4 separate regions of the Homo sapiens genome follow, and all the other regions are linked to region 1. Evidence: fine-mapped expression QTL. A gene starts in region 1. Each other region holds a variant in brackets. All regions are shown on one strand. Distances are from middle to middle.

Region 1 (7,818 bases):
TTCTGCACACCATTGCTTCCACTGAAAAGAAAATGACACCCAACCCATATAATTCACAATGTCGTAGAATGCTAAATGCGAGTTAAATGTGTGAAGGCACCAAACAAACTTCAAACTATCCCTTTTGATGTTACAATTATTATTTAGAATGTTTCAAAGAAAAAGCAGCAGCTGAGAGGCCATAAAACAATTTTATTTTCCTAAAATACTCATTCCCTGAATGGGCTAATTTATCATAGAATTAATAAAAGTGAAGATAAGGATATCAACTACATTTTTCCTGAAATGTATTAAAATATTACAGAGTTAATGGTTAAATATAAGTTATCCGTTAAAATGTATAACGTCATGGTATGTTATATCATACCATGGTCAAGAAAAGATAAAAAGCAATTAACAAAATGAACTAGGCACTTGGAGTTTTTCTTCTGGTTTTACTACTAATTTGCTGGGACTTCAACACACTCAGTGTTTCTGAGCTTCAGATTCTCATTTATAAAATGTGGAGAACAAAACTTGGTGCTATGTTAAAATGACATGTTACAACAATGTAAAACTTGGAAAATTACAGAGGAATTCTTTCCAACAGTAATATCCAAGGATAAAGACTAAACTAGGCTTCATTGTCTATTAAAGTAATGAGTTATGATATAATTAGTCAGTTTTATAGCAAGAAATTTATCTCCAAAACCTAACAATTATAACATATTAAGATTTCTGCCTGCCACTTCCCAAATACCCTTATCTAGATATTTTTCCCCCAGTTTAAACCTTTTATAATTTGGGTTTTTGAGAGAGAAGAGAAGCAATACTGAATATTAAATATTCAACAAATCTTATATGACAGGCATTCGGAATATGCCAAAGGACAAGTTAGACAAGTGAAATAAGACAAATGAAGTAGAGAGGTAATTTTTTCATGTTGATATTTTTCAGGTAATGATAACTTCTCTGAGTAGAATAATGTAAGGCAAAATGATAGAACTACTGTGTTATTTTAGATAAGGTGTTGACAGATTTTCCCTACTTAAATTTGAAAAGGGGACGGCAAAAGTCCTTTACAAATGCTTGACAAATTAGATAAGGCTCTTTTGTACTTTCTTTTTAAGCAAAGAACTTATCAGTTTAACCTTTAAATTCTCAAAAGTGGCTGGGCGCACTGGCTCATACTGGTAAACCCAACACTTTGGGAAGCCAAGGTGAGAGGATTGCTTGAAGCCTGGGGTTTCGGATCAACTAGGCAACATAGCAAGACCTTGTCTCTACATTAAAATAAAATATCAAGAGTAAAGTCTGAAGGTTCTTACTACAGTTATGCTTGCCAGCAAAAAGTGTTCTTCTGTTTCTTCAACACAGAGCCATCTGACCTCACCTATTTTACTTAAAAGTCCCCAGTGACTTCTGAACACCCATGGGTGTATTTTGTGAAAGCAGGTATGTTTTTCTTTCTTTTTTGTTTTTTAAAGTACCTTAACCTAATCCATTTCCAAATCCAATTTAATTCTATCTCATTTTGCAATCCCTGAATACATTTCGGTATCCTGACAGCTGTCTCATCGTCAATTCACATAATTTTGCAGCTCCACTTAGGAACCTTGCTTGTATGCTCAATATCTTTCTACCGATATATTTCTTTACTCATCCTAATGTGAGAATATATGTCAGGATATATGAAAATATTTAAGCAATGAAAAACCTGGGGAAAGAAAAGAAATGAAAGTCAACAGTGGGAGTAATATTTGCAGAAAGGAGAAAGTTAATTTGAGCAAAATGAAATAATTAATACACTACATGTTTCCTCTATGTAAAAATTATACTAAATATCTTTTAGATTAGTCATGTTGCTTTGAGACTTTTCCATGTTTCCTCTAGACAGCTGCCAATGTTCGCATGGTCTCTGATGAATAAACATGCTGTGACTTGCTTCTAAGGAAACGCCTGTCATGTTCCAGGGAAAAATGACTTCTACACTCTTAAATCAGGAAAACTGTACAAGTCTCATTCATTAGTGACAACGTCGATTTTTCCTTAACGTTTCTATTTCTGGAATGCTCGTATTCTCATTAGGGCATTTCTGCATTCAGATTAACTAAGAAAATAAACTATGTTGGAGGAACACTTATGCTGGGGGGAAAAATCTTGTACTACATCAAACGAGTTTCCTACTTGAGAAACTCAACTAGCATCCAGGTTACTCCTGAACTATTTACTAAGACCAAGGTTATTTTCAGGTTTTCTTCATCTCTTGCAGAACTACCTGTTCTCATTACTGTTTACTCAAACGCTTAACAAGGTAACTATTAGCATATCTGGCAGGAAGACATGCCTCATTTAATATTAACTCACCATGTGACAGCCCCCTTCCTCTCTTCTCAAACATGTGAGGATAAAAAGAAAAGTAGAGTTGTTTGCAATCTGATTTGCGCTGGGTTTTGGAACCAGCAATTGGCCACAGGCACACACACCCCCAATCAGAGGCGCGCACCCCGCTCGCTCCCGGAACTGTCATGCGGGCTGACAGCTGGCACACCCTCCTGTCGCCCTCCACCCGCCTGCAGAAAGCCCACTCCCTACAGTCACCTTGACATTGCTCACCTGCCTGGGCCTCAGCCCATGACCAAGGAAACTTTTGCCCTCCCTCCCCAGGAGCTCACTTACAGGTATCGTCCACCGCTCCCCCAGAGCCCAAACAAGGGTCCCTTTGTTACAATTTTTGCTCCCGGACTCCTCACCCAATTCCTGGCATTCAGCTGGCCTGTAGCAACCCAGGGCAGCCCCGGTAGGAAGGCAACCAAAAACGACCCGAGCCCTCCGCCCGGGCGGCCTCCGAGAAGGCCGGGAGGAAGCAGCCTCCCCGGCCGCGTGGAGGACAGTCAGTGAGTCAGGCCGCCGGCAGGGCAGCGAGTTGCCAGCCAGGTGAAACGGCCGAGGCCTCGCTGTCCTCGCCGGCCTCGCCCTCCCCGGTGAGAGGCGGCGCGGCGCTCTGGGCTTACCTGGCTGGGGCGTCCTGCGGGCGCGGGGTTCGGCCGTCCATCGCCCTGCGGGGCGCTGCGCGGGCTCCAGCTCCCAGGCGGCGCGTCACTGCTGGGGTGGGAGAGGCCGGCGGGTCAGGGCGGGACGCGCGCCTTCCCGAGGCCGGAGCGAAGCTGGCTGAGCGTCAAGAGCCCGCCCGAGCCGCTCCAGCCCCGGCCGGCCCGCCTCCCGGGTGCGCTTCCACCTGCGGGCCCCGGCTCCCAGCCCGCGGGCGCCGCCGCCGTCTCTACAAGGTCTAGCGGGCGCCCAGAGCACGGCGGAGGAGGCGGTGGCGCTGCAGCCCCCGCCCCGTGGGGTTTACTGGGTAGCCATTTGGCGCCTCTCGGAGGGAGAGGAGCCGCCGGGGCTGGAAAAGGAGGAGGAGCGGGGCCGGGCGCACGGGCACCGCTGCCACGCCGGCAGCGCACTCCCAGGCTCCTCCGGCCGAGTTTGCACAAACAAAACGCCCTAGGAAAACTTTTCCCGAAGAGAAGTTGGGAGGGCTGATCTCTCTTTTCCCACCCAAGGCTCCTACGTTCTTTTCCAAAGGAGACAGTAGCTCGCCTGTTCTCCCTCGCGGCTTCCTCTCCTACTCTTCCCTTCCCCGGCCCGCGCTCTTGCCGCTCGGCTCTCAAGCCAGGACTTGAATGGAGAAGCGGCAACCCCTGCGAGGCTCAGCCCAGCGCGGGCAGGGCCGACTCAGCACCTCCCCTGTCCCGCGGGCGGGGTGCGGGCGCTGGCTGGGCGCTGGGGGCCTCGCTGGAGCCCGCTCTCTCACTCACCCTGCCCCATTTCCCTGCCCGGAGTCCGGGAGCTCGCCGCCGCCTCTGCAGCACGGCCGCACATAAGTGGGGACCAGCTCGGCGGCATTGGAGCGAGGGAAGCAGCGAGCCGGAGAGAGGAACGGGGCGGGGGTGGGCCGGGAGCAAGTTGGAATTTCCTTCCCCCAGGGCTTCGGGTCTTTGGGGTCCGGCTGGGGAAGCTGAACCGAAAGAAAGCTCCCAGACGAGGTGTTCCCATTCCCACCGCTAGGCTGCGCTTCGGGAAGGCTGGTGCGCCTGAACCGGACAGGTGCGGGGGAAGGGAGGTTACCTGCCTTGCCAGGATCCGCGGGGAGGATTGGGGCCTCCGCGGAATGCGGTCAGAAACTCGCAGAGTGGGGCCTGCAGCTTGCCCCCCCTAGAGTCCGACCCTCGACGTCCAGGATCGTTTTTTTAAATTTGTGTTTTTAACTTGACCTTTAAGATTGCCATTCTTTTAAAAGCGCACCTGTGACACAGATCTTTCTAATTGGTGGCAGGTTTAAGCTTGCCCTGTCTTCAGAGGCATTTTTTGTAAAAGCCTATAACAGCTCTGACATGAGAACTGGACAACAGTATGTCTAATGACAGTCTATAAACTAAGAATTAAGTAATAGATTGTATTCACTTATTGGAACTTTTACAAGGGTAAAGGAATCAGACACAGCTGTGTGCTTGTTTGTACGTTTTAGTATCCACGTGCATGCCCTTTAGATGATTCTTTACACCTGACAGACAGGTACTAGGTTGGTGCAAAAGTAACTGCGGTTTTTGCCATTTTTTTTTTTTTTAAAAAGTAATGACAAAACCGCAATTACTTTTGCACCACCCTAATATATTTACATATTTTATATTTTTCATAAGCGCCAATTGTTTTAAGATGCGCGCCATTCTGATGGGCCCAAAAATGTGTTTTCAGAAAACAACGTGACATTAAGAAATGAATTTAAAATTAGAGTTTTAAAAACATATTTGGATTAAACTGATGGAGAGATCTTACAGGAAGGAACATCCTGCAGGGGACTTCTGTTGTAGCACTAACATCAAGTAATAAACCTGTGTTAGCCACTGATAGAATAACATTTGGCAGGTATTACAATTAAATTGATATTAATGCTCCTTTAGTTGGTTATCCATTGCAGCAACAAAAAAAGATTGCTGAACTAAATGCCTAGCAATGTGCCATTTGTCTACCACACGCAGGCATTGGTATTTATTTCTTTCAGTGCATAATGTCCTTTCAGTGCATCTTAAATATGAAAAGAAAAAAACACATGGCTCATTTGGATTACAATACTGGAACCATATTAGAAAAAGTTGCTTTTAGAGATTTTAACTAAGAGTAAAGCAATTTATTTAAATACCTCTGGGTTTTAGTCTTTAAACAATAACTCTGTTTAAACAATTTCATGAATCATTTATGCTTCTGAATACAGAGCTGTGCAAGCTTTTACAGTTGCTTGCACAGACAATGATGCAAATATTGAGTAACAGTGAAACTACTTGAAAGTCCATAACTTTCAATCACAAGACAAGATTAAATCTTTAATTAGTTTCAGCCTTAATTTATGACATACTAGTAATATTATGGACCCTAATACCAGTAAGATTAGGCTAATCTTAGTCATAAAACATTCATAACATTTCGTAACCACTGAAGGCATTTTCAGTGCTTACCACTTTTTGCTGTCCTCCTTCTGGTCCTAGGGAGAACTATATGCTCCACCCCATGGAAATTAGGTATGACCCTGTGACTTTGATAAGTGGAAATGTGAACAGACATGAAATGCTTTATTTCCTGGTGAAATTACTGCCAGTGTTTGAGTCTCTATGTTCCCTTCCTTTGCTACTGCAATCATGAAAGCATGTATTAAAATGAAGGTGACACAAGACTGGAATGCTAAACTATTACCCAGAGCACAGCTGCCCTGGAGAGTCCCAGGACCTACAACAGAATCCACATAAGCAAGAAATAAGCTCATGTTGGGCAAAACCACTTAAGAGCACCACCAAGCTTGGTGGTCTTCACATAATGGTACTAAGCTATCCTCACTGTAGCCAGTGATTAGCAAAATAATAATCACAGATTTGCTATAAATCTTTTTTTTTTTTTTTTTTTTTTTTTTGGAGAAGGAGTCTTGTTCCTGTTGCCCAGGCTGGAGTGCAGTGATGCGATCTCGGCTCACTGCAACCTCCATCTCTGGGGTTCAAGTGATTCTCCTGCCTCAGCCTCCCGAGTAGCTGGGATTACAGGTGACCACCACCACGCCTGGCTAATTTTTATATTTTTAGTAGAGACAAGGTTTCACCATGTTGGCCAGGCTGGTCTCGAACTCCTGGCCTCAGGTGATCTGCCCACCACAGCCTCCCAAAGTGCTGGAATTACAGGCATAAGCCACCATGCCTGGCTGCTATAAATCTTTTCACATAACAGGAGAAAACTGCTGTTTTCCAATCTTTCTAGTTATGCAGAGCTGTTTCAAAATTGCCCACGTTTCCAAGATTGCGCTCAATTTCCCCGTTTGGGAATCTCCCCCTCATTTCACCACCCAGCCGATCATTTTAAGTGCCTAAGCATAGGTATTATCCCCTCAGGAATACTTCCCTCATTGCAGAAATAGAAGTAGCCCTTCCCTTTCTTGGCCCCCAGTAGGTTCTGTTAGGTAGGGCAAGGACCCATGACACTTTGTTTCAGTTATTCATTTACATAATGCAGAGTTGGAGGGGTTTATTCTCTTTTTTTTTTTTTTTTGAGACAGAGTCTCACTGTCACCCAGGCTGGACTGCAGTGGCATGATCTTGGCTCACTGTAACCTCCACCACCCAGGATCAAGTGATTCTCCTGCCTCAGCCTCCCGAATAGCTGGGACTACAGGCATGTGCCACGTGCCCGGCTAATTTTTTATATTTTTAGCAGAGATGGGGTTTTACCATGTTGGCCAGGCTGGTCTTGAACTCCTGACCTTGTGATCCGCCTGCCTCGGCCTCCCAAAGTGCTGGGATTATAGGCGTGAGCCACAGTGCCCAGCCTACTCTTAAAGGACCACGTCTTATCCTTTGTCTCCTGAAAGCATAGCCCAGAACACAGGAGACTCTCCACCAGTATTTGTGTACTGAATAAAGGAATGAAGGAAACCTTCAGGCCTTCCCTCCTCAGAAGAATCCTAAAAGGAACTTGATTCAGGGAAAGACTTCAACTCAAAGGGGCTGGTAGGCCATTTTAAATGGAACAGATGGAAGGTGAGTTTGTCTTACTAGAGAAAGAAGACTTATTCTTCACGTGGTTACCTAATGGGGTTAGTACCAAAATCAATGGGTAGAATGAAGCTAAATGAAGGTCCACTTAGCTATATATCTCTCTGAATAATAATCTAGGTTTCATATTCCTCCTGGATAGTAATAAATGGAAAGGAGGTTTACATGCTTAATAAATACCTGTGTGCTTATATAAAAAGCAGATAGGCATGTTAAAGTGGGCCATAATGGTTGGAGTTTGTCTAAAATTTTTGTAAACTATTTGGAATAATGAAAACATTTTTAAATGCTTATTTTAAGTATGTTTTTATTCCACTATAAGTACCACTTGAAAAGCTTTATTTAAAACTGAAAAATTACACTTAAAAGATGGTTAATATCTTTCTGTGCATTTCACCTTTGCACATTACAACCTAAAGGAAGTGTTTATTTTATGTCTTCTTAGATTGTGTACATGTGTGTGTTTGTGGTTTTATATAACAAGATCAGAGTTGTTACATTTCAGTTTTAATAAAAGTCTTATTTCAGACTTTGTATTTCATAGAAACTGCCCAATCTCAGAAAATATGTTATGTTATTTATGCATAAGACTTTGTTGATGAAAACAGGGAGCTGAAAGTCAGAATTGTAGCTTTATTCTCAATTCAGTAATATATGCATAATAGTTAATTATCCATTCATCTCTGTGTAGTGCTTTCATAATTTGAGTATTCCTACATGTATTAACACATAGAAAGTGTTGTTAGAATTT
Region 2 (7,818 bases), 120 kb before region 1:
GCAGAAATATAGACCAAGACCATGGATTTAGTACCTCCAAATTTAGAAAATGAATAAAAGAAACAGTGACAAGAAAAAAAAAATAGAAGAGGGCTGAGATATAAGAAGAGGTTCAAGACCAAGGAAGAAAAAGACAAATCAAGACCAAGGGGGTAATTAACCACATCAAATATATCAAGAAGTTAGTTGCAGAGATGCCTAGGAAGGTATGAATTTTTGTGTGCACTACAGCTTTATCACTAAGAATTTTTGCAATGAATAAATAAAAAATGGTTCTTCAGCTTCTCTAGGGAAAGACAAATAAGTCTGGGTCCTACTGAACAATACATCAAAGAACTATCCAGATGTCCAGATCAAAAGAAAAAATAATTAGAAAATTGTATAAAGATGTGTAGTTTGCCAAAGGCAACATACTAAAAAAAAAAAGATTACTTAACACAGGGGCAGCAACTGGTCACAGAGCAGAGGGAGAGAATCAAAAGAAATAGCTTTCAGTGAGGTCACTGGTGGCACAGCCCAGAATTTTAAGAAACAGACTATTAGAAAGACAACATAGACCTCTTGGGGAGCCAAGTACAAAGGAAGTTTACTGAAATAGATTGGATGAGGACAGCTGGAATAAAGATTTGTGAGCATGGGCTAAAGTATATTTCTATATATATTAATATATGCAAAAAGGTAGCTACTCAAGAGTATAATTTACACTCTTCTATGATACAACAACCCTAAAAATGCTACTTCTTATTGTGAATAAATTTAAAAGGGCTACAAGCACAAAATAAAGTCTTTGGGACCCTGACTTGACCCCTGCTTACCATGCTTAATTTCAGTCTCTGTTTCTTGCTCATGTCCAGGCAAGCCATCGTGTTCACATTCCTGCGTCTCTTAACAGGGTTCCTTGGCCTAATGCACTCCCACACATATTTTAAGAGTGAACTCAAGAATCATCTCTCCGTGAAGATTCTCCCAACTCTCAAGCAGTTACCCTGCAAATTCTTTGTCAGTATGTGACTCTATAACTTGACAAAAACATTATCCTCCTGATTTGTGAGATTGGATGAGATTTTATAAGATGAGATTTTATACCACAAATACTAAATTAGACAAGAAAGTCTTCATAGAAATAAGAAACTTAATAGATAATTTTCCAAGTACTGAGGTTAAGCATTTTCAAAATTCATTTCTATCTCTTTGAGTTGCATGTATGATAGCCTATAAACTACATTTTAAAACTATGGTTAATTTTTTTTAAGTAAAGGAAGCACAGAAATGTGTACCAGGTGCTTGGGAAGAGTTAATTTACTTTAGCATTGCATTTACTAAGCCCCCAAGGGGGAAACAAAATCTTTCAACTAGACACAAGAAAACTTCTCAGTGTCTCAATTATCTCCAAATAAAATCTGCTCTCAAAGTTACTTAAATCATTCTTTCTGATTACCAGCAACAATATATACAGTCTCATCTTCAATCATATATACCTAAAAATTCATTTATTTTTCACATGGATAAAGCAAGGAATATGCAGATTGTTTAGTCATGAAAAGTAGTTTGCAAATGGATCTCCACAAAATGGCAAACTCAGGGAAAATTTGAGATTAAAGGTGTGTAATAGTAAGAAACTTTGAGAAAAAGGTACACATAGAACTGTGCTTTGAAGATAAGGGTGCATAAAGGTAACTGTGATATATTCTATATAAAAAGGCTCATTTTCTTTTTTCACTGTGGAGTATCTATGTACTAGGTAGATACCAGGCTATTCCCTGGAGAATCTGAGTCAGGTCAAGAAAATACGTGTGGTTAGAAACCCATGAACACAACTCAAAGACTGTGTTACTGTATAAAAAAGAACTATTCAAAAATAAAGACTGTATTTCCATTCCTATTACATGCACCTAGCAAGAGCCCCTAGTTAGGCCTTAGTAAACCAAGACTTTAGGTTTTCAGATTTTTTTTTGCTTGAATATGAAAGTTACTTAAAATGGACATTTATCCTTTACTGCATCACAGACCTGTATGTACATAGAAGATCTATTCCTAGTACCAATCTTAGAATGAGCTATTCATCTTATTACATATTAGTAACTGTTACTAATTACCAACTGTTATAGGACTACTTCTTACTAGTCTACCTAGAAAAGATGTTAGGTAAGAGGAAAAATAAATGGTACACTGCCTCATCCAAAAAAACAAAATAGAAAACAAAACTACACACCTTATCTGTCTCATCCACGCTCATGGATTTCACTATACAAGAAGCAGGCCTCTCCTGGATGTGTGCAAGGTCTTGGGGGACACTCTGAGATGCTGGCATCGGGGGCAGTGGAGCCCGCCTCTTCTTGGGTGCATCCGACGGCAGGGTGTTGGAAATATATGGTTTGGAAATGGTATTGGACCTTGTAAAAGTTGGGCGGTGCTTATTTACTAGAGGGGTTGCAGGGGCACTTGCAGTCTAGTAAAGAATGACAAAGACAAAATCTAGTAATTTCAAGATATTAGTAAAAAGCATTAGTAATTAAAAATAATTGAAGAATCTTACAAAATGCAATATAAGAAAATACTTACTTGGTCTCGCTTTTTCTTACTGCGTTGAAAAAAACTGAAAAACCCTTTATTTTCTTTCTCCTTCATAATATCTAGGTTTTGTGATATTTGGCAGGACTCTAAAATAGAAGAAAAGCATCTTACTTTTGTATGTGAGGTTGACTGTTCACTTCCAAGATTTCTTTCTCTTACTTCCCCTTTGCAAACTTATCTAATGCTAAAAGCTACTAATTATAGTCTACAAAGAAGCACCTTAAATCTTATTAAGTTCTCAAAGCAACAAGCAAATATTGTTCCTATTTCACAGCAGAGGAAACTGAAGCTTAAAAAACTAAGATACATAATCCAGGCCAACACTCAGGAAATGACAGAGCTACGACACAAACTCAATTTTTTTGACTCAGAGTCTGTGTTCTGCTTTTGAAGTATAGAAGCAAAATAGAAAGGACACTTCAAATTACACAAGACATGAAATCGCTACCACACAGTTTGTTCCTTTATTTTGATTATACTTTTGTCTCACAGCTAAACAACTATGAAATATCTTATTCTACAAAATGTGAGTCATTATAATTGCTCAGTACTTTGTTAAATGTTTCATAAAAGTTATTTCTTTAATAGGGTGGGTCTCAACTGGGACCAATTTTGTCCCCCAGAGGACATTTGACAAAGTCTGGGGACAATTTGATTGCCACCATTGGCAATGAGGTTAGGAGACTGTGCTGTCTGCATTTACTGGGTAGAGGCCAGTGAGGATTCCAAACATAGCACATTGCAAAAGACAGTCCCTAATGACAGAATTATCTTGTCTCAAATGTTAATAGTGCTGAAAATTAGGAAGCCCTACTTTAGTTAGAAGGGCAAATGTCAAACCTCAAGGTTGTATACATAATATTTATATAAAATTTTCCAAAAAGCATCTCCTAATATCAACTGAAGGGCCTACAAACAATGACACAGCCAGTAGTGCTGAGCCTCCCTGGCCCAAATTGGCTATAAATTCCATTTCCCATTAAAAGAAACCATGATTACTTGAGAATGGTTGATTCTCTGTTGGTATCAAAGAATCTACAAGATAAACTTGGGACATCTAGCCATACTAGAAAGAATGCTATCAAAGTCTACCAGGTTGTGTTAAAAGGACTCAGGAACCAACTTGAGACAGTTTCTACTGGTAAAAATAAGGATAATTTGGACATCATAAAAGTAACTCAATAAACTGAAACATGTCACATGTGTTTAATTTCATATGTTCATAATGATACTAAAAAAAAAAAACTCTTTTTTCACCTTTGTGTTATGCTAGAGAACCAGTCCATTATTTTAAAAACTGATGAAAGGAAATCATCCAACTTTTATTATACCTTTTTCTTTTCTTATTTATTTATTTATTTATTGAGACAGTCTTTTTTTGAATCTCACTCTGTCGCCCAGGCTGGAGTGCAGTGGCGTGATCTTGGCTCACTGCAACCTCTGAGTCCTCGGTTCAAGCGATTCTCCTGCCTCAGCCTCCCAAGTAGCTGGGACTACAGGCATGCATCCCCATGCCTGGCTAATGTTTGTATTTTTAGTAGAGACAGGGTTTCGCCATATTGGCCAGGCTGGTCTCGAACTCCTGGCCTCAGGTGATCCACCCGCCTCGGCCTCCCAAAGTGCTAGGATTACAGGCATGAGCCACCTCATCCAGCCTATTCTACCTTTTTCTGATTGAATTCGACTTATGTAGCAGTCATATAGCTGACACGGAGAACCTTACTTTTTCAGTAATATTGACTGCAATAGACTTTCACCATTTTTCAAATCTTAATTAACTAAGATGTAGACAAAGATCATTGATGGCTAACATCAGAAAAAAATAACT[C/T]GTTGTTACATGTTTGCTGATGGAAGTACACAGCAACACTTGTGAAGTATTCTTGCCAAAAAATCTCTCGCCAAAATCTGATCAAGCCTCTAGATTTAACCATCAATTTACAGGAAAGAGAGGGGAAATTTACATTGAAATAAAATTTCAATGACATTGGCAATAAGTTAAACATTAAGTGACACCACAGGAGGCAAACAGTAAAAATCTGAACACGGGAAGCTATAAAACAAATGACCTAGTTTCTTCAATAAATGAGTAGCAAATTTTTCTAAAAGGTTGGAAAAACAATGAGTGGTGATCTGTAAAACTAAAAAAATATTTCTTCTACTAAGCAACATATGGATTTTATGGTAAATCACAATATAATTTCAATAACATTTGACATAAAATATTGTGTATTAAAATTTGTGAGACATAACTAAAGCTAAACTAATAGATAAATATATAGTCTTAAATGCTTTTATTTAAAATACCTGTCTAAGAAAACCAAAATAAATTATGGCAAAATAGGGACTACTTCAGGAAAGGAAAGCTAGTTAACACCAAATAAATACAATAATACAATATGCCTCAATAACATATGAAAGGAAAACTATTTTACAAAGTAAAACTTTTAAATCTGATGATTCAAATATTAAATAAGCAGCATACATTCTGCACAATGAGTTTGACAATGCTAGCAACTAATAATAACGAACACGTAGATAGCACTTTATGGTTAAAGTTTTTTTGCATGCCTAAATGTTTCTTAGAATGACCTTGTGAGGGAAGTATCAAAAGTTATCACTCTGAGCCCTTTTTCTCATTGGAAGATGCTAGCATTTACCCTGCAGGATATATATATATATATATATATATATATATATAAAATGAAAGCAGTGGTATTACTCCATTACGCTCTCAGGAACTATAAGTGAACAGAGAGTTTTCGTAACTTGCACAAAGACAAACAGGCATTAAACAGTAGAACTAAAACTGGTATCCATTTAAAGATTATTTATATTTGTATTATTTTTACATTTGCCACTATTTCAATTTAAGATGGAATACACCGCTTATCGCATATGGATACACAATTAAATTTACTCAGAACAGTAGATGAAAAATTCATATGGTTGTGCAATACAATAAATATAACCAGAATATTTTTTATTTTTTATTTATTTTTTTGAAACGGTCTCACTCTGTCACCCAGTCTGGAGTGCACTGGCAGGGTCATGGCTCACCACAGCCCTGACCTCCCTGGGCTTAGGTGATCCTCCCACCTCAGCCTTCTGAGTAGCTGGGACTACAGGCATGTGCCACCACACCCGGCTAATTTTTGTATTTTTTGTGGAGATGGGATTTTGCCATGTTTCCCAGGCTGGTCGCAAATTCCTAGGCTCAAGCAATCTTCCCACCTTGACCTCCCAAAGTGTTGGAATGATAGGTGTGAGCCACCGTGCCTGGCCCATATGGTTATTTTTGGTGAAGAAATTTTCAGGTACATGGTCATCCTCCACACTAGTTAGCCATTAAGTTTTCACTTAAAGCTCTACATCAGGGATCATAGCAAGTCAGGTTAAACAGTAAGACAAGCAAAGGCTTTAGCTTACTTAGAAAAGCAACTCAAATACTGTAGTTTCCTGTTTCTAGAAGGCAGGCTAAATATAATTGCATGGTAAGTTCTAAGTTTTCAAAATAGTATCAGAAAAAATAAGGAGGCAAGGGTAGTGACAGCATTTGGATTGACCTTGTAGATTCTGATACTGTAAACTTTCTTAATTTTAATATTTCACTCTCTTAAGATTTGTCCACAACATTTCATATTCTAAATAAACCACATCCTTCCATTACTGGAAGGGATATTAGAAATCAGTGCATTCGACAACCTCAAAATGAGGCCAGAAAGTTTATGGAATTTGCTTAGGATTATGCAGATAGAGAGTGGCAAAATTAGGAGTAAAAGTCAAGTACAAGTAATAAAATGTTGTTGCTAGAAAGAACCACAGAGACCACTATTTCTAATCTCCTATTATTATAGAAGTAGAAGGTGAGATTTCACTAACACATAATATATGCAGTTTGTTAAGGCTTGTTTTTTTAGTAGGCTGGTAATTATTAGGGTAATCAATTATTTGAGACTTTTTCTTAATGGGTGAAAAAAGACTTCCACAATTTATTATTGGGCAATTTTTAATACAGTTTTTCTCTATGAAAGGAATGTATGCCCATTATATAATTCTGTATTATAAAGAAAATAAATAATAAAAAAATCACATACCATAACCCTACCACCCAAAGGTAACCACTATTGAAATTTTTTATGTATTTCCTTTCAGCAATTTCATATAAAAGCATTTATTCACCTATTGTGTTAAACACACTTATATGGTATAAAAGCTAATTTCAACATAAGCATTTTCCATCTTATTACAAAATATTCACAAACAATGACTGCAAAATTTCATATGATTAATATAACACCATTATTCTGAATTACTGTTCAGTGAAATAATCTGAAATGCTTCCTCGGTACTACCAAGCTATTAGCATTTGTACCCAGTAAAGATCCTAGTAAATCATTTTTCCTTGTATGAGAGTAAAGAATACGTTTTCCCACACTGTTAGAATAATTTTTAAACATTTGTTGAAATGAAATTATTATAATTAAATTCAGAAATCAAGGGGAAGGAACCTATACATTTTTCAAGGAAATAAAACCCAAATATTTTCTAGGTTAAAATCTCATACAGAATGAACACGTTAGTGATGTTAAGAAAGGGTAAAATTAGAAGCTTAATTTCAATATATCCAATTTCATGTTATAATTTGTTTCTACTGATTCATACATCTTACCTTGTAAAGATGACTTACTGAAGACAGTAACAGAAGTGGCTACAGAAGGAGGGGTATAAAAGAGGGTAAATTGACTGTGAAGATGATGTTTGTTCAAGTATAAAACATCACTGAGTTGAAAAAGTAGTCTATGGATTACATAAAGCCACCACCTCAGGATAAATTTTGAAGTCTCTATGCAAAGAGTATGTAAATAATTGTCAGCTTCACTAAACTTTTATTTCTCTTAGTGAAACAGATTCATGTTGAATAAATGTTTGCATTTGTCTACTAGACATCATACAAACCAGCATTATCTAAGATCTCCAAATTTTAATACATCATTTCTATAGATTAAAACTGGGAGCTATTTCAAAAATTTTTTGAATTAGACTGATACATTTCATAAGCCAACTTATTTTGGTGTTGACCTTAGGAAAAATTTGGCAAGAAACTTCCAAACTTGAATGATAATTAAGACTCAGACAAAATCATAGTGAGTCCACAGTAATTCACACTTGATTAGAATAACAATGACTTTATATGTAAATTTTTATTTTCTGTTTAAGCCTCAAAGCCATGAAGAATTAAGTTAA
Region 3 (7,818 bases), 90 kb before region 1:
TCCTCACCCCTTTTAAACGGGAATGTTTCAACCAGTTTTCTTATCAAATAGATTTTCACATATGCTTTTCTTCACCGGTGGCCTTGTTTGACTATCAGTCTACTCTTTAGAGGCTTTTCCCCTTAACAGTAAACAACAGCAAATTTCACATAAGGGTAGGTGGAGAGGAGGTTATACTGGAAAGATATTTATAATAAGAAAACTCCCCCACATCAGGGCAAAAATTCATTATTCAAGCTTAAAAATAACAAGCTACAGTAAATTATTGCTTATGCAAATCATTGCTTTATTAAAATTATCTCAATATTATACTCAATTTTAATAATGAGAATTAAGGCAAAATTTGCATTATTCAATAATATATTTTGATAATATCATAATCTCATTTTAACACCGAATTCAATTAGTGTCCTACTATTACTGCTGATTGGTCTTTTTATCATTTTGATTTACAGGGCACTCCAAAATCATGTGCCCACTGTAATCATTACTCCATTACTGTCAATATAATATCCTTAAAATAGATAAAAAGAGGAAATAAAAGAGCTCAGCAAAACATAATTCTAGTCTTGATTTGAAAAAGCAAAGGTTTAAAATGCTGTATGAGATATACTTACATCCTTAATAAGCTACTCAACTCCAATGGGCTCTCATCAGTTTGCTGTATTTATCATATTTATAAAGTATTCTTATAGATTCATTCAGAAAAGTGCTATACAAAAAATATGGCTTCAATATTAAATACAAAAATATGAGTGAATTCTCAGTCTTAAAACAATAGGGTTTTTAAGTATTGCAGTCTAAAGACCAAAAATAAATTTAACAGTAACCCTCTCTCAGCACAAAGAGGGCAATCAAACATAGATAGGATTTATTGTGGTAAGTGTTGATGAGGCAGTCCTTCAAAATAACTGGCAGTGTTTTGATGGCCACTAAAGTATGTATTTCAATTATAAATTGAAGACCAATTTCTCAACACGATTTCTCAGTTTCTCTGTCTGGGTTTAATGAAACAACAGAAGAATTTTTTAAACAAGATTTGTTCAGAAGTGGGCATAACATTGTATTATGTGCTCAAGAGAATACAATTAAAAACAATAAAGCCCTTTTTTCTTGATGAGCCTAATTTCAAATAGTGAGTATGTCAAAAGGGCTTGAAAAGATATGCAATAATGAAAATCGACAAGGAGAAACCCAAAACATTATATGACTCTCATATTACATTTTTTTTTTCTCAAGGTTGCCAATAACCTATGAGGGTCCAAATCATAGACAACTGTCTGTCTCATCTTGGTCACACTGAGCACTATTTCACAGCCACTCAAGTCCTCTGTGAGGGATTGTCTTCCCTTGGCTTCTTCATGTGGGCACACAATCTACTGTTTCTTCCTTCTTCACTGCCACTCCTCAGTCTCCCCATCCTCACCTCCTCTGATTTCTAAATGTTGGGGCAACCCAGGGTCCATTCTCTGCCTTTTTCTCTTCTTTCTACAACCTCCACCTCCAAGAGACTTCATAAAAGCCCATGGCTTCAAATATCACTATATGTCAGTGGCCGTCAAATTTACATCTCCAACCTGACTTGTTTATTGAGCTCTGACTTTTATTCCCAACAATCTCATGGTTATCTCCATTTGGATGTCCCATAGGTATCTCAAATGTTCTATAACCAAAACTTGATTCTCCTCTTCATCTCTAATCCTCATTCTCACACAAACCTACTCTATATTATTCCCCATCTCTACAAATGGCTCCACTAACCACCCAGTTAACTCAAGCAAAAAAACTCCAGCAGGCATACTTTAATTCCTCTCTGTCCTTTATCTCCTATTTCCAATCTGTTAACAATTCCCCTGGGATCTAAACTCTAAAACATATCCTGAACTTCTATACTTTTCACCAGCTCCCTGCTACCACCCTGGTAATCAAGGCATCATCTTTTCTTGCCCAAACTGCTTCAAAAGCCTTTTCACTGGTCTCTCCTGTTTCTCCTCTTGTCCCTTAAAATCTATTCTCCCCTGTAGTAGTCAGAGTGAACTTTTAAATATGTATGCCATTAGGTCAGTGGGGGAGAAAAACAAGAAAGAAGACATAAATCAGATCACATCTCTCTAATCCTTCACTGGCCTTCCAATGCATTGATGAACCCAAATTCTTTTCCTTGGCTTGCAGGCCCCAAATGAGCTAGCCTGGTGGTTCTCAAAGTATGGTTTCAGAGCAGCAGCCATAGTACTTGGCTGCCGCACCCCTGAGACAGACATAATCAGAAACATTAAGGGCAGGGCCTTACAATCCACATTTGACAACTCTCCAAGTGATTCTGATGTATGCTAAAGTCTGAGAACCAATGAGACAACCTCAGCGCCCCTCTTGTTACTCCCAGTTTCAATGCCCCATGTAATTCACACTGGCATTCTTTCCTGAAATAGACCCAGTCTCTTCACATCCAAGAGCCTTCCATAGCTTTGCCCTCGGTCCAAAATGCTTTTAACCAGAAAACTTCAAATTGCCTGCTCCTTGAGGTCATTCAGAATTCAGATAAAATATTTCCTCCTCTTAGAGGTATTCTCTAACCACTCAAAAAAGGTACCAAGGCACACCCCACCCATCGTGGCCCACTCTTCACATAGCCCTGCTTGGTCCCCATCACATTTATCACTATCTGAAATCATCCTGCTTATTTACTTATTTCCTTGTTTTTTATTTGACCCCAGAATAAAAATTCCTGGAGGGCTGGGACGTGGCCTGTCTCATTCTCTGCTGGCACCTAGAACTATAACTGGCACAAGATGGGGTTCTCTATGAGCATTTTTTTTTATTTAGTTGAGGAAGGAAGGGAGGGAAGGTCATATTAGTTTCATCAGTTCATAGGAGAGCAAAAACTTGGTGGGTTGCTGAGAGTCAACCTGTTCTGTAGCCAGAGGTATAAGAAGTCATTCAAGTCATTCATGAATATCTACTGCTAAGTCCTTTAAAGGTGCTTTTGGTCTACATTTAATCTTATGAGGCCATTGCCACTGCCATTTAGCTGGGGTTTACAGAGGTTTAAGAAATTTGCCCCAAAGCGCATAGAACATGGGACAATTACAAATGAAAACCCACCAAATCCCCCCGCCAATAACCCTAGCAAAGGCCACCCAAATAACTCCCAGTGTTTAAATAAGCCCCAAAGACATGCACATGGATAAAAGATCTCAATCCTCAGGAAGTTTCTAAATGGTTTTCCTATTTGGGGAAGGGATTAAATTGGGACTGACAAAATTTTAGATTGTATGAAGACTCCCTCATTTTGCCCAGACGCTCGGTAATTTGCCTGAAGCCATGTAATCTGTGGGACAGGACTCAAATCTGTAGCTTCCTTTGACCAATGAGAATTATGATTAATATCAGAAAAGAATAATCTAATTTTTCATTTTTAGGAATGGGACTCAACTTTCAGTTATACTTGGTATAATGTACCAAGCAAAGAGGCAGTGGCATATTCACATCAAAGAAGCACATATGGAATGCTAGTGTCATGTCCCAACAGTAAAAGCCAAACAGAACACAAGAAAAAGTAGTTTCTATCCAGTATCAACAGCAGCTAATCCTTGAGTGTTGACTGTGTGTTAGAAAATGTTTTTTACCTGCACTAACTCGTGTCCTTACTACACTATATGAAGCAAGTGCTGCCACCTCCACATTCCAGATGAGGGTGACATGCAGACAGATTAAGGAACTTGCCTAAGGTTCCTTAGCCAGTAAGTGGTGGAGCTGAAATTTAAACCCAAGGTGTCTGATTCTGAAGTTGGTGCTCTTTACTACCACATTACATCATTTCTTTGAGATCTTAAACATTCATCAAAATAAACAAAAACAACAAGTGAATGAGCAAAAGCCAGGTAGTGAAGGAGAAAAAAATATGTGGTTATTGAATATCTTCTAAGTCCTGTACAGGTGCTTTTTGTCTACGTTTAATCTTATGAGGCAGTTACCACTGCCATTTAGTTGGGGTTTACAGAGGTTTAAGAAATTTGCCCAAAAGCACAGAGAGCATGGGACAACTACAAATGAAAACCCACCAAATCCACTCCCCACTACCCAATAACCCTAGCAAGGGCCATAAGCCTCAACATTTAAACAGGAAGGCAGATACCAGATGTACCCATACCCCAGCCCTACCACTGAGACAGCTACTTCCCCAGGTGAGGTTGGAGAAACAATATACTGGACATCAAAAGGCCTGGGAGTATCCTAAATGGCCACTTGTGTTACCGTAAGTAAATCACTTAATTTCTCTGGCCTTCCATTTTCTCATTTACAAAATACAGGTATTGAACAAGATGATCCCATGCCCCTTTACCTCTGACATAAAATATTTATGCACAATTTTGTTTAGAAACTGGAAATGGAGACAAGATAGTTAGGACTAGGGTCAAGGCAGGGCACAGTGGCTGCACTAATTTACAAGTAGCATTTGGTTGAAAGAGTCACATGGACAGGACGCCCATTCCCAGGGAGTTCTTCCTATGCTGAGAACACTTCTGCTCCTGGTCAGGAAAGGGTCTCCTCTGAGGCTCACAGGAAACAGAAGCCTGGAAAATGGGATCCATTTCCAAGTGCTTTTCTCTCTCTTGGCATTCACACTAGGAAAAAATGATAAAGGGAATGGCAAACCCAAAAGAAAATTTTGAAAAGCTCTTGTTTCAGTCTCCCACACTCAATTATTTTACATTTCAACACCTGGAATACCAAGTCCCTACCACAAGCCATTCATCACTTCAGGCTTTCTGCCCCCATAGCACCTCCACTTAAGTCTGACCAATAATCCA[T/C]AGTCCCATCAATTACATCCCATGTTTCTGCCACCTTAAATCTCTCTCTCCAAGGTGCACAAACAAAAAAAAAAAATGCAGAGATTTCTATTATCTTAAATACGACTTGCCTGCTTCTTCCAAGTACTCTTTCAAGTACCTTGTCATTACCCGCCTTTCTTTTGCAGCAAAACTTCTAGGACTCTGCTGTCCAATATGGCGGCCATGTAGCTACTGAGCACTTGAAGCATAATTAGTGTGACTGAGGGACTACAGTTTTAGTTTATTTAGTTTTAATTTGAATTTTAAAACTGATACTTGATTCAGTTACTGGAAAATGTTTAAGTATATTTGGGATAAGTTGAGTATGGGAATTTTTTTTTTTTTTTTTTTTAAGACAGAGGCTCACTCCGTCACCCAGGCTGGAAGGCAGTGGTACGATCTCAGCTCACTGCAACCTCAGCCTCTTGGGTTCAAGCAATTCTCGTGCCTCAGCCTCCTGAGTAGCTGGAAGTATAGGCATTCATTACCATGCCCAGCTAATTTTTGTAGAGACAGGGTCGCACCACGTTGGCCAGGCTGGTCATGAACTCCTATCCTCAAATGATCCACTTGCCTCGGCCTCCTAAAGTGCTGAAGTTACAGGTGTGAGCCACCGTGCTGGCCCAGAATCTATTTTTTCAAGTATAAATTTCATGACATCTAAATACAGATCGGGTATTTCCAATGAAAATATAACATCTGAGTTGAGAAGTGCTATAAGTGTAAAATACACACTATATTCCATAGACTTAGTAAAAGGTATTAAATATCTATTGGTAATTATTGTATGCTGACTACATGTTAAAATAATATTTTTATATACTCAGTTTAAGGAAATACATTTACCATGGTGGGCCTTCTCTAAGATGATGTCCAATGACTGCTTCCTTGTGCAGTCTCCTCCCTTTGTACGTGGGCTGGACTTAGTGACTCACTTCCAGTAAATAGAATGCAGCAACAGTGATTGGCTGTCATTTCTGAGATTAGGTTACGAAAAGACCATGGTGTTATTTTAGGTACCCTCCTGCTCTGAGAGAATCCAGCTGCCCTATGGGGAGTCCCATGTGGCAACTGACATCTCAGGCCAATAGTCACAAGAGTGAGCTTGGAAGCAAATCTCTCCCCAGTAAAGACTTGAGCCCCAGCCTACACCTTGACTGCAGTCTCATCACTCAACCAGCAAACTAGAGAATGACAGTTCTACATACACGCTGTACCTGAGTTTCAGTTTCAGGTGATTTGACGTACTCGCTGTTCTAAAGCACTGCTCCTGGCATCACCTACATTTAGAGCACATCGTCTTTGCAATCCAAGAACCTTTCTTGTTTTACACAGAAGTCTATTTTAAATTCTTTTAGGACCTTGTCTATATTTAAAGGAAACATGTAAATCCTTTTGTTCAATAATTAGCTATGATGATCTATCACACCCATCTCTGTGTGACAATGAAGTAGAGCAAATCCAAAGACAAGACACAGGTTTCCGGCTGGGTGCAGTGGCCCACACCTGTAATCTCAGCATTTTCGGAGCCCATGGCAGGAGGATCACTTGAAGCCAAGAGCCTGGATGACATAATAATACTTCATCTCTACCAAACAAATTTAAAAAATAGCCTGGCATGCTGATATGCACCTCTAGTCTCAGCTACTCGGTAGGCTGAGCCGGGAGGATCACTTAAGCCTGGGATGTCAAGGCTGCAGTGAGCCACGATTGTGCCACTGCACTCCAGCCTAGGTGACAAAGCAAGACCCTGTCTGCAATAAATATATGAAAATTTTTTTAAATGTTGTTTTTAAAGACACAGGTTTCCCTCTAGCATGTAGAGTATGGCAGAAAGAGTAAAGACGTAGCCAAGTGACTAGCACAATGCAGGAGTGAAATACCCCAGGGTACCTTGTGCATAGTTTCCAAAGTACATCACCTTATCCACCAGAAAAATTTTTTGAGTCAAAAACCATTAACATAATTTTGCCATTTTTGATTAGTACATTACCTTCTGCATAGTATGTTCAATTAATTCTTAAAGAATGAATCTACTTAAATATAGTTTCATTAGGTTGATTTTTTGTTGTTATACCTCTCTCAAATCTTCCCCTTTTACTACTTTTAAGGAACATAGCAATTATGTAAAGTGGGCCACAGGACACAATAGAACCTCTTTGTATCATTAGACCTTTGAGAATAAGGTTAGCATGAGTAGATGAAGCTTTATTGTAATTTAGTTGTCATATACCCAGAAAGACATAACCTGCTCTGTGTTCTAACTCATGTAATAAAAGGGTCATGTAGGTAATGACAGGATTCTTTAAATTTAATTTAGCTCGCAACTCAAAAGCTGTTATTTCTTAAATGAAATTAGATAGTTCACTTGCTTCTAAATGCCCTTTTAAATTCATGTAAACAAATGGACAGTATTTATCATCCTGCCATACTTTTCATGTATATATAAAAAATCACTATGCTGTGCAAGGGTGGTTCCCAAATACATCTTAGAAGTTGTTCTGCCTCATGCTTAGTTATCATTTCAGACCTTTAATAGACATAGGGCCAGCTTTTGTTCACCTTACTCTAAATACATTCTATACATATAGTACACACATACAAATGTGTGAGTATACATACGTGCGTATAGTGTGTATATGGCAGCATGAGAGAGAGAGAGAGAATGAGGGAGGGAGGGAGGGAGAGAGAGAGAGAGAGCAAGAGTGAGGGAATGTGCTAGTGAGCACCATGAGCACTTATTTTCCTTTGGCTTTCACTAGAGGTCTATTCCAAATTCACTTGCCAAGTAACTTTTCCTGAAGCAACTCTTATTCTCCTATTCTAAGCAGATATGTACTCCAGTAGAAAACATATGACTCCTAAAAATACTTGTGGTGAGGAAAAGTTTAATATTCACTATGATAGCCAGTTACTGAGATGCTAAGTAACATAATTCTCTCTCTCCATTCCCCCTCTACTCATCATCTTCAGGTAATTTCCAGGG
Region 4 (7,818 bases), 150 kb after region 1:
AACATATAATGGGGTATGAAATGATTTTAAGGGGAAATGACAATGACAATGACAGCCATATGTAGTATGTAGGGGGACTATTGCTTTCAATCTTGGAAAATGAGTTCAAGTTTTGATTGCATCAAAATGGAGCCACACTGAAATTCTCAGGTAGAATTAGCCATACATCCTTTGTTTCTGGGTTTCTGAGATATTGGTGACAGAACTGAAACTAAGAACAGATCTATTGTCAACTATGATTGTCTTGCCTCCTTTTTTTCTCTGATCTTGTTTACTGCCTGAGTTTCCCCTCACATTATACCACCACAACTAAGCAGGGACCTTATTTATTAAGAGTACATTCTTGCATATTTCTGCTTTAACATAGTGTTAGTTCAGTATCTAAGAGTGAATTAAGGGGAGAAGTAAGCAGTGTCTGTATATGCTACAGACAATGAGAAGACTGTCTTACTGCAATATTTTAGGCATGTGCCTTGACTTTGAATGAAAGTTCCTGTCCATATCCTAAAGGAGAAAAGAGGTGCACTCATATTATTAAATATCCCCTAGATTTTAGTGAATATATGGACTACTTTTTTAAAGCAAATCTGTAAGGGCAGTTGTCATTGTGGAGAACTGTGGGTTTAATTAGTCTGTCTTAATAATATAAATGGAGAAAATTTAGTTGAGAACAGTGTTGAATTTTTAGCAGTCCAACGATATCTCTTTGTGGAGAGAGCATTTGCTTTATTAAATCTCCATGAGATAAACTCACATTTTTAGGGGAGTGTTAAGAGAAAATCTCTCCAAGTGTTTAAGCCTGGGAAAATGAGAGAGGGGAAATACAGAATGAGGTCATGTGAACTGTCAATTGTGAATAAGAGGAAAAGTCAGAACCAAAGAAAAGCCCTTAGTGTGTAGAAGAGGTACAGATTGAAAATGAGCTGTCAAAAAGAAATGTGGGGGATAAGCTAGAATAAAACACCTAAAGAATAAATTTCAAGGAAAAAGAGGAACATTAATAGGGCCAAATATTGATTAAACTTGACTGAGATAAAGGGAGAGAGAAAGGTGGTTTGATTTGGGGATTAGGTTATTAGTAACAATCTTCATAAGCAAGTTTCCAACGACTTGTAGTAGTAGAAACTGGGATGAAGGGAACTATGGTAATTTAGGAAGGACAGATAGAGTATCAGTATCTTTGAAAAGTTTGCAGGTGATGAGATCAATGAGGATAAATGATAACTTAATGGGGTGTCACGGAATCACCTTAAGTTGGCTGGTGAAGACTTGGGCAGTTTTTAGGAACAGATTATATTAAAAACAGGAAAAAAAGAGCAAAGAAAAATATATTAGGACTTCTAGCTGCATGGTAAACAATAAACTCTGGTTTCACTAAATATATTTGGCATATATTAATTATAGAATTTTCCTTGCAAATGTTGTTACAAATTATATGATATTTCCTCTTTTCCAATTTTCCTCTTACAAGGTAAATTCACCTAATCTTTATTATGATATATTTGTAAGGGGAATTGAATTATAAACTTTCTTAGGCTAAAATAAGGACAAAACAAAAATTTTCTGATAAAATTTTCTTGCAGTATGCCACCATTTGCCAAAGGAAATCAGCCATTGTAGCCTTTTCTGCAATCTTAAGTTTTTTGGACAAATATCTATTGTCCAAACTAAAATTTAGTTCTAATTCCATTCATATTAGATATATTTATTTAATACAGCATTCTGTTTAATACAGACTTTATAAATAGAATCACATTTTATTTTTAAATGTCATATCCTAGAGGAATGTTTGTACAAATCATTTAAAAATGAATAGTTTAAAAATAACTTAGCTTTAGTCTTTAAGTATTTACATGCTGATTTGTCATACATAAAAGGATATTCTTCTTCTTAATTATATCTTTCTGATACTGAATTTTAAAGGTTTTTTTTGTTTTAATTACACAACTGGTGGTGACAATATAACCCTAGATGGCTATGGTATATTTGTTCAGGTGCCTTGAGAAATACCAAAATTTTTGACAATTTTTTTTCCTTTGGGCCAGATCTTTTTTATTACAATGAAAGAGAAATTTCAGTACACTAAGAGACAGAGACTCTACACAGAGTTTCAATTTCCCCTTAGCTCCTATAAAATGGAATATCATGCTACTGAGATATCTCATGCACTGCTCTTGCCTTCTGTCTGAAGATGGGATTCATGAATTACCTGAATCATCTGGATCCCTAGAATTGGATTAGTGGCTCAGACCACTCCATCTTTTGGGGCAGATGATAGAGGGTGTCTATTTCCTACAGCTAGGTTGTTGCAGTAAGATTACATAACTCTTATTTGATCTTTCTCATTATTTTTTTCAGGACATAAATTGTGTTCCAATTCTGATATCCAATGATCTTACCTCATTTGGGGTAGGTTAAAGTTGATACTCATTAGGACTCTAAGTACCATATTTTTCTACTTAGTGCAAACGTCAGAAAGTAAGTAATCATGTTTAAACTGACAAGAGCTTTAACCAGGAAGTTGCCTACATCACAAGATCTCCTTCCTGTGGTAATGTGCATGGAGTCTTCCACAAAGAGACAGACAGATGCCTGCAATAACCGGCTTAAGAAAAGATAACCATCAATACCACTGGTTGATTTCATCTGCTCCTATGAGAAGGACAGATTGTACATGGTGCTGTCAGATGATCTCAGACCATAAAGAGATTTCCTGAGAGATCGTTATAATATTGGGATAAAAATTTATTACAAAAAAACTCATAGAGTGAATAAATGATAGAGGTAAACAAAAGTTTATTCTATTAAAACTTACATTTTGCAGCTTATTACAACATATGTTATGATTTGAATGTGTCCCCTCCGAAGTTCAGTTGTTGCCAATATGATGGTATTAGGAAGTGATTGAGATCGGTATTAAGGTATTAAGATGGTCTTTAAGAGGTGATTAGGCCTTACAGTCTCTTCCTGGCTAATGGAGTTAAAAGGCCCTTATAAAAGAGGCGTCACACAGTGCTTGTCTAGTTGCCTTTCCACCTTATGCCATGTGAGGATGCAGCAAGAAGGCCCTCACTAGATCAAATGCCTAGAGCCTTACCTTATATTTTCCAGCCACTGAAACTGTGAGAAAGTACATTTTTTTCTTTATAAAATAGTCTGTGGTATTTTGTTACAGGAGCACAAATGGACTAAGACAACATGCATGTAATTAACAAATGGGTCTTCAGTATAAGCATGAAGGAGATAGCTTTCCAGTTTGCTAAGAGATGTCTAAACTGGACATCCTTAACAGCTGCCCCTCCACCCATAACCATTGCACCAGTTTCTATATAAAAGGTCAGAACTCTGCCTTTTACTTCGAGAACTTCTTTTCTGGAAAGGTCTAACAGCTTACTATCCATCCCATTATAACTAGCTATAATATTCTGTCAAATTCCTTCAAATTGATTTCTCTGTCTTAGACCACCATACCCATCATAATTCTGAAAGCTGAAATAGGATGAGCACCCTCTTCTCTACAGATAGCCCTATATGGAACCCTTGGCTTCTGCTGAGATAAGATTTGAGATAGGAGAAA[G/C]AGAAAAGCTAGTTTGCCAACCAGAGGGAGGATGATGTGTTCAGTTTGCAAATGGTAAGATTTAGATGTTCTGTAGACAACTAGAGGTATTGGAATCCAGGCTTGGATGAGAGGTTTGGTTTGGTACATCAATTGAGTAGTCATTAGTATAAAAATGACAACTGGGCTGGGTGTGGTGGCTCATGCTCGTAATCCTAGCACTTTGGGAGGCCGAGGCGGGTGGATCACCTGAGGTCAGGAGTTCGAGACCAGCCTGGCCAACATGATGAAACCCTATCTCTACTAAAAACACAAAAAATTAGCTGGGTGTGGTGGTGGGCACCTGTAATCCCAGCTAATCGGGGGACTGAGGCAGGAGAATTGCTTGAACCTGGGGGGTGGAGGTTGCAGTGAGCTGAGATCGCACCACTTCACTCCAGCCTGGGCAAAAGAGTGAAGCTCTATCTTAAAAAACAAAAAACAACAACAACAAAAAACCATCTGGTGCTAGAAGGCAGGATTGGTAGGCAAAGGGGAAGTAAGTGGAGAGAGATTGGGATTGAGGACCCAGTCTTGCAGCAAGAAGAGGAAGCAAGTTATTGAAGGAGATGTGAAAGCCAGGTAGAGAGGTAAGAGAAACCTATTACAATGGCCCCATCACAGCGGGCCTTCACAGTCACACAAGCTTCACATTTGGATCTCTAAATGAGATCATGTCTCTATATTTTGTGAATATGTATTAAACTTTTAATTTAGAAGCAATAAATATTTAAAACATATGGAAATGTTGGGACGCTTTAAAAGAAATGGGCTGTGTGTGGTGGTCACATCTGTAATCCCAGTGCTTTGGGAAGCTGAGGTGGGAGGACTGATTGAGCCCAGGAGTTTGAGACCAACCTAGGCAACATATTAAGACCCTGCCTCTACCAAAAAAAAAAAAAGAAAAAAAAAAGTTGGGTATGGTGGCACATACCCATAGTCCCAGCTACTTGGGAGGCTGAGATGGCAGGATTGCTGGAGCCCAGGAATTTGAGGCTGCAGTGAGTCATGATCACACCACTGCACTGCAGCCTGAGCAACAGAGCAAGACTCTGTCTCAAAAAATAAATAAATCAATGAAAGAAATAAAAGTTGCTTGGATTCTTACTAACTTGTGATTAGTCCTGGGAGGAAAATCAGAAGACTGTTCCAGGAACAGGCAATTGAGGATGTCAGAAAAGTCAGATGTTGGCAAGATGTCAAAGAGAATAAGAACTGAGAGAAGACCATGATGTTCAGCAAGGGGGGCCACTAGAGCTCCATAAGAGAGAGGCCTGGGTATTGTGGTCAGAGGAAGTCAAGGAATTAGTAAATGCTAAAGAAAGTGGGACAGGTCTCAAGCATCCTTTAGAGAAGTTTGGCAATTAGAAGCATGTGTGTGTGTGTGTGTGTGTGTGTGTGTGTGTGCCACTGTTCATTTTTACCTCTCATCTCCTATCTCATCCAATACCTAATATTCTCTAGGGAAATGGAATCCTGGCTGAAAGGCAGGCTTGTCCTTCAGCTGTCACAGTGCCCAAGAAGTGCACAGAAGGGAGTCCTTTTTTTTTTTTTTTAAATTTATGCTGTGGTTCTGGGAGCCAGAGATAGAGAAAAAAAAAGTTGTCCTGGAGTCTGTTGCATTGTGACTGAATCAAGTTATCCATAAAAGGACTCAAAAGAGGAGTCTGGGTTCACAGCTTAAAGGAATGAGGCTAAACAGCAGAAAGGCTCAAGCAACCACTGGTGGAGGGGAACAAGTAAGAACTTGTCTGGAGAAGTTTGGAGCCAAGTATAAATACCCACTGCTGACATTCACACATTCCCAGCTTGCTTGTCCAAGGGCAAGCAGGAGTCATTCAGAGCCTGAACTTAATAGGCATCTAATATTGCTATGTGTTGTTATATCTCAACCACCACCAACACCACCACTCCCAGCTAGCACTCACAGAGCACCTGACCTGGGAACAGTGCCTGAATCAGAAACAGAAACTTCTAGACTGATGTGGTTCAGTGGTGCTTACATAGGCTATTGTTTACTACATCTGCACCAACCTTTCAGGAAGCATTTGGCTTGTACATTTAGCTCTGTGGCCCACTGAAGAGAATTTCCTGTGGGCAGTGGGGTGAGGAACCCTGCCTTAATCTGCTTCTCAGGTATTCTTCTCCCTTGCTTTTATGTGTCAGAATCTGTATAATCCTTGTAGGGCCTATCCAGGAGTAGGCAGAGCCAGAGTGCCCATTCCTGATGTCCACAAAGTACAGCAATGCACCCAGGCTTGATTTGGAGCCACTCTTGCCTTCCTGACTGTTTTCAAAGATATGTTGCATGGCCTCTGAGCCAGTGCAACAAGACTTGCAGGCATTGGTATTTGCATAACAAATAGTAATTTTTTTTTGCTTAAATAAGGGAAATAGGGAATATTTATCATAGCTATACATTTATTCATTTAATTCCTATTTATTTATTCATTCATTTATTCAAACATTTCTTAAGCATGCACCACGTGTCATGCCTATCTTAGAGGCCACAAAGGTTCTAAAACTATTACGTGCCGACAGAAAAAGAGACCCATATACATGTAGCATTATGTCTTATTGGAATTCAGAGCAGGAAGAGAACACATCTGGCTGGGGGCAGGATGAGGAAGGACCTGATAAATTTTCTATTGAACAATTACTCTAAGTGTGCTTTCTTTAGATGGTAAGGATTAGACCAGGATTCAAGATTACTGGATTTTGAGTCAAAGTTTGAACTCCTTGGGGGAAAATCTGCATATATGCAGAGTCATGGTGGTAATTACAGTATTAAGCCCCATTTTGGAACACTTTGATCTGATCTGATTTAAAATTTTATTTCCTGAAAGGTTTACTCACGTCATATTAAGGTACTCTAGTCTTTTTATTTGCAAACTCATTTAAAATCTAAATACTGCTCTCTGCTTTGGACTTGGCTGCTTTTCAATAACAGGAAGGAATACTGTTTTCATCAGTTTTGTATATCCGCCACGAGAGGGCAGCATTTTACTTCTTTTAAGATTTAACGCTGTTCTACAAAATGCTGAGCTGTGCCTGGAGGGCTTTGTGATGTGGAAAATCTTCAGAAATGTTCAGTGAAACCCAGCATCCTCTGATTCATCTTTAAAGAGGAGAAAAAAATATTCTACGTGACTCTATTACCAATCTTTGGGCAGAGAACCAAATAATTTGGCCAGGCTCTCAATCTTTGTGGTTGAAAAGTTATCAGGAAATTTAAAATGTAAATTCATAGTTACAGAGCCACTAGTGAAAATTTGCTTTTTAATGAACTTTTTTTTTGGTCTATATTTTCACCCTCTGGGGTGGGGGCTCTTTTAAATGCGCCTGTTTAACCATACTGCATCCAGAAATGTATACATATCACAAACCTGTTGGTAATGACACCAATGCAAGCTCCGTTTCCCTTCCAGTCATCTGTGGACCACACCTACACCAGCGCTTCCTTCTGCGCATCCTATGGCACCTGTCTACTTCCTGTTTTGGGAATCCCCACAGAGGCTAGCACAGTGCTGAACTTGTAAAAAGTACGCAATAAATGATCCTCTTCCTGAACGACATTGGATGATAATAAAATCTCTTGTGAGAGAGAGGTGAGACGGGGGAGGGGAGAGAGACAGAGACAGAGTCAGAGCCAGAGAGAGATCAAAAGGGAAAAGCGGGCAGCAGCAGGGAGGCAGGCTTGAGGAGTCCCTGTCTGATTTACGTGGGGGCCACAAATTGGTTTGATCAGGTGTGAAGTTTACACGGCGCCGGGAAGGCTGGTTGCCCCACCCTAATCTTATGCAAATGGGCTTTCCACTTGCTCAGCGCCATCTTGTCTACTCCTTACTGTACATGTGGCTGGCAAAGAGAAGGGAAGATAGAGCTCTCGTTTTGAACACGTAGTTCTGTGTCCGGAACTGGTGGGTTCTTGGTCTCACTGACTTCAAGAATGAAGCTGCGGACCCTCGCGGTGAGTGTTACAGCTCTTAAGGTGGCGCGTCTGGAGTTTGTTCCTTCTGATGTTCGGATGTGTTCTTGAGTTTCTTCCTTCTGGTAGGTTCGTGGTCTCGCTGGCTCAGGAGTGAAGCTGCAGACCTTCGCGGTGAGTGTTACAGCTCATAAAAGCAGTGTGGACCCAAAGAGTGAGCAGTAGCAAGATTTATTGCAAAAAGCGAAAGAACAAAGCTTCCACAGTGTGGAAGGGGACCCGAACGGGTTGCCAC

Which allele goes with the higher level. Alleles are on the strand shown, and positions count from the first base shown. SD is a standard deviation of normalised expression in the study named. Not every link is listed here.
For the expression in sun-exposed skin of the gene that starts at base 3,661 in region 1, allele C in region 2 goes with a lower level than allele T (small effect, 0.27 SD a copy in GTEx).
In carriers of allele G in region 4, the expression in sigmoid colon of the gene that starts at base 3,661 in region 1 tends to be higher than with C alone (small effect, 0.28 SD a copy in GTEx).

What was found. PIP is the estimated chance that this variant, and not a neighbour inherited with it, causes the effect.
Region 2: its variant is the best candidate, but not a certain one, in a credible set for the expression of COBLL1 in sun-exposed skin (GTEx, PIP 0.64).
Region 3: its variant is the best candidate, but not a certain one, in a credible set for the expression of COBLL1 in blood mononuclear cells (TOPMed, PIP 0.79).
Region 4: its variant is the best candidate, but not a certain one, in a credible set for the expression of COBLL1 in sigmoid colon (GTEx, PIP 0.69).

The regions. Positions count from the first base shown.
Region 1 is chr2:164,838,163-164,845,980 of GRCh38, forward strand. It overlaps COBLL1 (cordon-bleu WH2 repeat protein like 1), which reads right to left and starts at 3,661. Exons shown (of 14, transcript NM_001365672.2): 1 at 3,548-3,661; 2 at 2,994-3,084. The coding sequence starts at 3,034. LOC101929633 (a long non-coding RNA gene) reads left to right here and starts at 2,587. Exons shown (of 2, transcript NR_110574.1): 1 at 2,587-2,660. RefSeq lists a silencer at 3,635-3,844.
Region 2 is chr2:164,719,863-164,727,680 of GRCh38, forward strand. COBLL1 (cordon-bleu WH2 repeat protein like 1) reads right to left here. Exons shown (of 14, transcript NM_001365672.2): 6 at 2,563-2,660; 7 at 2,213-2,449. Among named protein-coding and RNA genes, the nearest start is that of SNORA70F, 36 kb to the left of the region's middle. The variant C/T (reference allele first, on the strand shown) is at 4,403.
Region 3 is chr2:164,748,576-164,756,393 of GRCh38, forward strand. All of the region lies in intron 2 of COBLL1 (cordon-bleu WH2 repeat protein like 1), which reads right to left. Among named protein-coding and RNA genes, the nearest start is that of SNORA70F, 65 kb to the left of the region's middle. The variant T/C (reference allele first, on the strand shown) is at 4,812.
Region 4 is chr2:164,986,438-164,994,255 of GRCh38, forward strand. No RefSeq gene overlaps it. Among named protein-coding and RNA genes, the nearest start is that of SLC38A11, 35 kb to the left of the region's middle. The variant G/C (reference allele first, on the strand shown) is at 3,578.